Regions from separate parts of the Homo sapiens genome. Here region 1 is linked to region 2. The links come from fine-mapping of genetic effects on gene expression. Tissue or cell type: pancreas. Region 2 holds a variant in brackets; the other region holds the start of a gene. All regions are shown on one strand. Distances are from middle to middle.

The links. PIP is the estimated chance that this variant, and not a neighbour inherited with it, causes the effect. A credible set is the group of variants that fine-mapping cannot tell apart.
Region 1: it holds the start of MECR, and the variant in region 2 is the best candidate, but not a certain one, in a credible set for the expression of MECR in pancreas (GTEx, PIP 0.57).

What each region holds. Positions count from the first base shown.
Region 1 is chr1:29,229,285-29,232,199 of GRCh38, forward strand. It overlaps MECR (mitochondrial trans-2-enoyl-CoA reductase), which reads right to left and starts at 1,650. Exons shown (of 10, transcript NM_016011.5): 1 at 1,447-1,650. The coding sequence starts at 1,622. RefSeq lists enhancers at 1,026-1,526, 1,527-2,027, 1,552-1,661.
Region 2 is chr1:29,009,940-29,012,854 of GRCh38, forward strand. EPB41 (erythrocyte membrane protein band 4.1) reads left to right here. Exons shown (of 21, transcript NM_001376013.1): 5 at 1,926-1,968. Among named protein-coding and RNA genes, the nearest start is that of EPB41, 97 kb to the left of the region's middle. The variant A/G (reference allele first, on the strand shown) is at 1,351.

The sequences.
Region 1 (2,915 bases), 220 kb after region 2:
CTCCGCCTCCTGGGTTCAAGCGGTTCTCCTGCCTCAGCCTCCTGAGTAGCAGGGATTACAGGTGCCCACCACCAAGCCCGGCTAATTTTTTTGTATTTTTAGTAGAGATGGGGTTTCGCCACGTTGGCCAGGCTGGTCTAGAACTCGTGACCTCAGGTGATCCACCCGCCTCAGTCTCCCTAATGCTGGGATTACAGGCGTGAGCCACCGTGCCCAGCTCTAGCCTGAATTTTAACCATTAAAGTAATACCACATTTGCCCATCCTTTGGAAAATAATCAAACTATTTGCTGGGAATCAAAGAGTTAAAAAGAAGGTACTGCACAAGAGTATGCAGGTGTTTTTTGGTGGAGAGCACTACATAGATCTTAGGTGATTACCACTATGAACTTTGTCTGTACTGTCTCCATTTTTTAAGATGATGAAACCGAGGCTCAGAGAACCTCAGTAACTTGCCAAATGCAAAGCTAGGACAAGGATTTGACCCCAAGTATTTTGATTCCCAGACCTGTGCTTTTGCTTTAGCTCCACTTCAGTGGCCCCAATAGCCCTTCTGAATGGCTATTTATGTGCAGATTTACAATGGTTGGCAACTGACATACTATTTTTATCAACCACGTGCAAAAAGCATGAATTAAGATCCAACAGAATTTTAGGAGGAGGACAAAGTCATAAAAGTAACGAGAAGTTGAATGACTTCTCTAAGACCAAACAGCTACTAAGACGTTGAGCCTGTATTTGACCAAATATAGATACTTGGGTCTGTATGGCACCAAAGCAGCTCTTTTTAACCAAGCCAAGATGCATATACGGTGCAGTGGAGAGAAACATGAGTTTGGAATCAGAAGCCATGGATTCCAGTCTCCTGTTCCAATCACTTATTAGCGGTATCACTCTGGGCAAGTCCCTTGCCCTCTGGAAACAATGATCTATGACCTACTCTTTACTGACACATGAAGATCCAAATGGATGTAAAAGTATTCTGAAAACTTCTTCCAAATAATAATAATAATAGTAAGAACTCACGCAGGTCAGTCAGACATAGGTTGGAATTCTGACCCTGTCACTTACTGGCTGTGTGACCTTGGACGAGTGATTTTACCTCTTCTGCCTCAGTTTTCATCTGCAAAATGGGGATAAATCAATAACTACCCCAAAACATTGTTGTGACAATTAAATGAGAGCATCCATTTAAACAAGGGATTGCCTGACACAATATTCGATCAATAAACATCAGCCATTAATACCCTGATAATTGCCTCTCGGGTCTTCAGCTACCTTCAAGTACGGTCTTTCTGACCTACCAAAAACGCCCTGGGCTTCGGCTTCGGTTTGCTATTCTCTGCCCCCTTCCTCGGACCCTGTCCCTCTCTTCCCAGTCCGCAGCTCGTGTTAAAGCCTTCCAGAAACCCCAGTCCCCTTCCCCGGCTTCGGCGCCGTCTCTTACTCGACGACCTTGGCTGGATCCCCGTGGTGCCCATAGACAAGCGCCCGGACCCGGGCAGGCTCGGCGGATGCGGAGTAGGAGGAGGCGGCAGGTCCGTGACAGCCAGAAGCTGGGAGCAGCCCCCGCCACTGCCGGGCGGGGGTTCGCACCCGCCACAGGGTACTGCAGACCCACATGCTCGCTCCAACCAACACAGAGCCTGACGCCCCGGCTACGTCATCTTCCAGCGACCGCGCGCCTGCGCCCCGCCCCTGCCCCGCCGGGTGACCACTCCCCCTTGGTCCCTTTGAAGGGCGTTTCCTTCCTTCGCTGCCCAAGTGGTGGCGCCTGGCTAGACTGCGTGTGGGCCCCGGAGGGATCCGGGGGTGCGGAGCTTGCGAGGCCGCCAAAGCTGTTGTCTCAACAAGGAGAGTCTGGGGCTAGTCCAAAGTCGTGTCTACAGCCTGCAGTTTGGTGTTTGATTTGGAGGAAATATTTACTCTCCCTGGCCTCAGTTTACCCTTCACATAATATATTGAGTGCTCACCGAGCCAGGCTCTTTAAGGTATTATCTCATTTAATCACCACTACCATGTAACGGCATAGGGAGGCAAAGCTTACTTCCCTACACTGAGGAGAGTACACGAAAGCTGCTGTGGAGGCAGGAGTATGGGGCTTGGAGTTAGAAAACTTAGGTTCAAATCCTAGCCCTGCCACTTCCTAGCTTGGCCACCTTGGGCAGGTGAAACTCTGAATTTTTCTCATCGGTACAATGGGGATAATATGCCTCCTTCCGGATTGTTGTGAGGATTGGATGAAATAATAGAGGAATGCTATTGTGGGTGGGAGAACGCATTGTAAAAAACTCTGTTCAGATGTAAGACAGGAATCACAAGGAGAAGGGTCCTCTCTCAAAATGCTCACAGTGTAGAAAGGGATTAAGTGGAACACTGGAAATGCCTGTAAAAAGGTGTAGCCCTATGAAGGATCTAGTCTGATTTTTGGTGTAGGGAAGACATGAACATTACTAAAACCCCAGATCGAGCTGTGGCTCGTGCCAGAGTGCAATGCTGTAGTCTGAAGAGAAGTGCTCTGGGATGGGGTGGGATGGGGTGGGGGCTCTTGGAGGAGGTGCTGTTAGAGCCAGCCCTGTGATTCAAAATCTTCTGTGTGCATAAAAATAATCCGAGGTCCCATCTTAGACCTACTGAATTAGAATCTTGCGGATGGGGGTTCCAGGAATCTACATCCTTACAAGCTCCCAAGAATATTCTGATGCAGGTGTCCCAGGAAACAGGTTTTAAGATACTGAGCCAGGGCTTTGAAGGATAAGGAAGAGTTCCTTTCCTGGATTTTATTGACTTGAAGCTTGCCATCTCCAAGCCTTTCCTCTGAGGAAGAGAGCACAGCAAAGTACTGTGAGCTAGATTTGGACAAACCTGGCTTTATGTCCTAGCTCTGCCATTTTCCAGCCATTTGATTTCGGACAA
Region 2 (2,915 bases):
TGGTGTTCAAGCCCATTCCTTCAATAGGGCAAATGGGATAGTCACCATATGCTCTGCCCTTGTTGGTAGAGGGTGAGGAAGGGACACCTTACTCCTTTTTTCTAAATACCACTGTCTCTGGGTACGGTGGCTGACACCTGTAATCTCAGCACTTTGGGAGGCCGAGGTGGGCAGATCACTTGAGGCCAGGAGTTCCAGACCAGCCTGGCCAACATGGTGAAACCCCATCTCTACTAAAAATACAAAAAAATTAGCCAGGCATGGTGGTGGTTGCCTGTAATCCCAGCTACTCGGGAGGCTGAGGCAGGAGAATTGCTTGAACCCGGGAGGCGGAGGTTGCAGAGAACCAAGATTGCATCACTAAACTCCAGCCTGGGCCACAGAGCGAGACCCTGTCTAAATAAATAAATAAAATGCCACTGAAATTCAATTTTAAATCTTTTGGACAAGGGAAGGGGAGGGATTAGGAAGAGGCAAGAGAGGGGCTCCTGAGGTGCTAGTAATGTTATAATTCTTATATGTTCACTTTGATATTTTATTGATCTTTATACTTATGTTTTATGTACTTTTCGACATGTATCTTGTATTCCATTAAAATGTTTTAAACAATTCTAGAAATTTAGAAATTTCTGTCTTTAAACATTTCTCAAAGGGACCTATGAAAGATGTTAATGGTGAGGTTCTTTTCCAGTGCCCTTATTTTGCATGGTCTACCATGGGTTGAGGAGCCCTAGCCTAGTGGTGTGCAGATTCTAAGTGGAGTGGGAGAACAGTGAAGGACAAGATTGGCGTGGGCAAGAGTAGTTTGGGAAAACAAAATATTTATTCATTCAGTAAACGTTAACTGGGCACAAGCCATGTACTGAATACTGTGCTGATATAGAAAACTTTGGCCAGGCATAGTGGCTCATGCCTATAATCCCAGCACTTTGGGAGGCCGAGCCGGGCAGATCACCTGAGGTCAGGAGTTGGAGACCAGCCTGACCAACATGGTGAAACCCCATTTCTACTAAAAATACAAAAATTAGCTGGGCATGGCATGGTGGCATGCACCTGTAATCCCAGCTACTCAGGAGGCGGAGGCAGGAGAATCACTTGAACCCGGGAGGCGGAGGTTGCAGTGGGCTGACATCGAGATTGCGCCATTGCTCTCCAGCCTGGGCGACAAGAGTGAAACTCTGTCAAAAAAAAAAAAAAAAGAAAAAAAAGAAAAGAGTTTGAGACCAGCCTAGCCAACATGTTTGGCAAAACCCCATCTCTACTAAAAATACAAAAATTAGCCGGGTGTGGTCGTGGGCACCTGTAATCCCAGCTACTTGGGAGGCTGAGTCAGGAGAATTGCTTGAACCC[A/G]CGAGGCGGAGGTTGCAGTGAGCTGAGATTGTGCCAGTGCACTCTAGCCAGGGCAATAGAGCGAGACTCCTTCTCAAAAAGAAAAAAAAAAAAAGAAAAAACTTGAAGGAGACTAAAGGTCAGGGTTGGAGGGGAAAATAAAATGTGGATGCTGTCAATTAATTCTGGTTGTAGCTATCTACTAGTCTTTATAGAATAATATAAATAACCAATGCTTACTTAGCATTTGCTGTTTACTAATATATTTACATGTATTAACTCATTTTATCTTCACAGTAACACTATGAAGTAGGCACTACTACCAATATCTCATTGTATAGATGAGGAAACTGAGGTACAGATTTCCTAAAGTCACTCAGCCAGGAAGTAGTGGAGCTAATATTCAACCCAAATGTCAGGGTCCCTTTTTGTCTGCTCAAAATCACTATGCTTTGTGAAATTAATGCAAAGACTATCAAAGGAAATGCAGGTTGATCTGGAGGCACTATTTGAAGATAGTCAGTGATCTTGCTTCCAGTACTCTGTTGTTTATGTGTTTTGGAGCTCTGTGTGAATGCCTTTTCTCCTTTTTACAGACATGGCTGGATTCCGCCAAAGAAATAAAAAAGCAGGTTCGTGGTAAGTGGATATAGCTCTTTTTATAGTTCTTTCTTTCTTTTAGTAGGTCAGAGGATTTCCAACCATTTCTGGCTGTGAGTCAGTCACTTTAGAATCCTGACTACTGCAGATTGCTTTGAAATCGAGATAAAGCCTTCTCCTGGAAGGAGGAGATTCCATAATAGAAAAATATAGCAGAGGTGGATACTATTGAGATGTAGGTCAGATTTTGTTGATTTTTTTTTTTTTACAACTGGGCAAAGTTGGGGAAGATAGGAAGAGTTGAGAGTAACAGAAGGTGGAAAAGAACAAAGATGAGAAAAGAAAAAGGATATGGGAGTCAGTTCTCAAAATGGTAGTGACTTGAAACCGCAGTTGCCTACTAGGAGTTTGCTGCCGTATCCTATTCCTTTGAAATTGTTCTGAACTATTGCATTATAAATTTTATGTTTTCCTCTTTATGGTTGTTTTCATCCCTTTTAACAGTCCTCTTCCAAACTGCAGTATAAAGGACTGTGGAAGAAAAAAAGAATGGAAAGACAAGAATTGCTTGCCACTGACCCTTCTGACATTGTGGCTTTGCTCCTAGCTCTAACTCTAATGTATAGTCCCGCTTTACACCCTGATCAGACTGGTGTCCTGGGATAAATATTTCTGGGCTGAAAAAAGTACAGATTAGTATTTTGCAGTTCCAGGCCCAATGGCTAATTAAGACTACCTGTCCTTTTAGTTTAGTTTTGAAGAAACTTCCAGGAAATGCAATAGTTGTTATTTATCATGATTAGTAAGTTTTAACACTCACCTGAAAACAAACTTTACTTTTCATTTGTTTCTTAGAAGAAAACACTTTTGTTATGGTGAAATGTTTTTCTTTAGACCCTATTTGTAATTGTTTAGTTTTCTTAACGGAAGAAACAAAATACTCTTTTGGACTGATAACTCTCTGTATTTGCTTTCTACCTATAAAA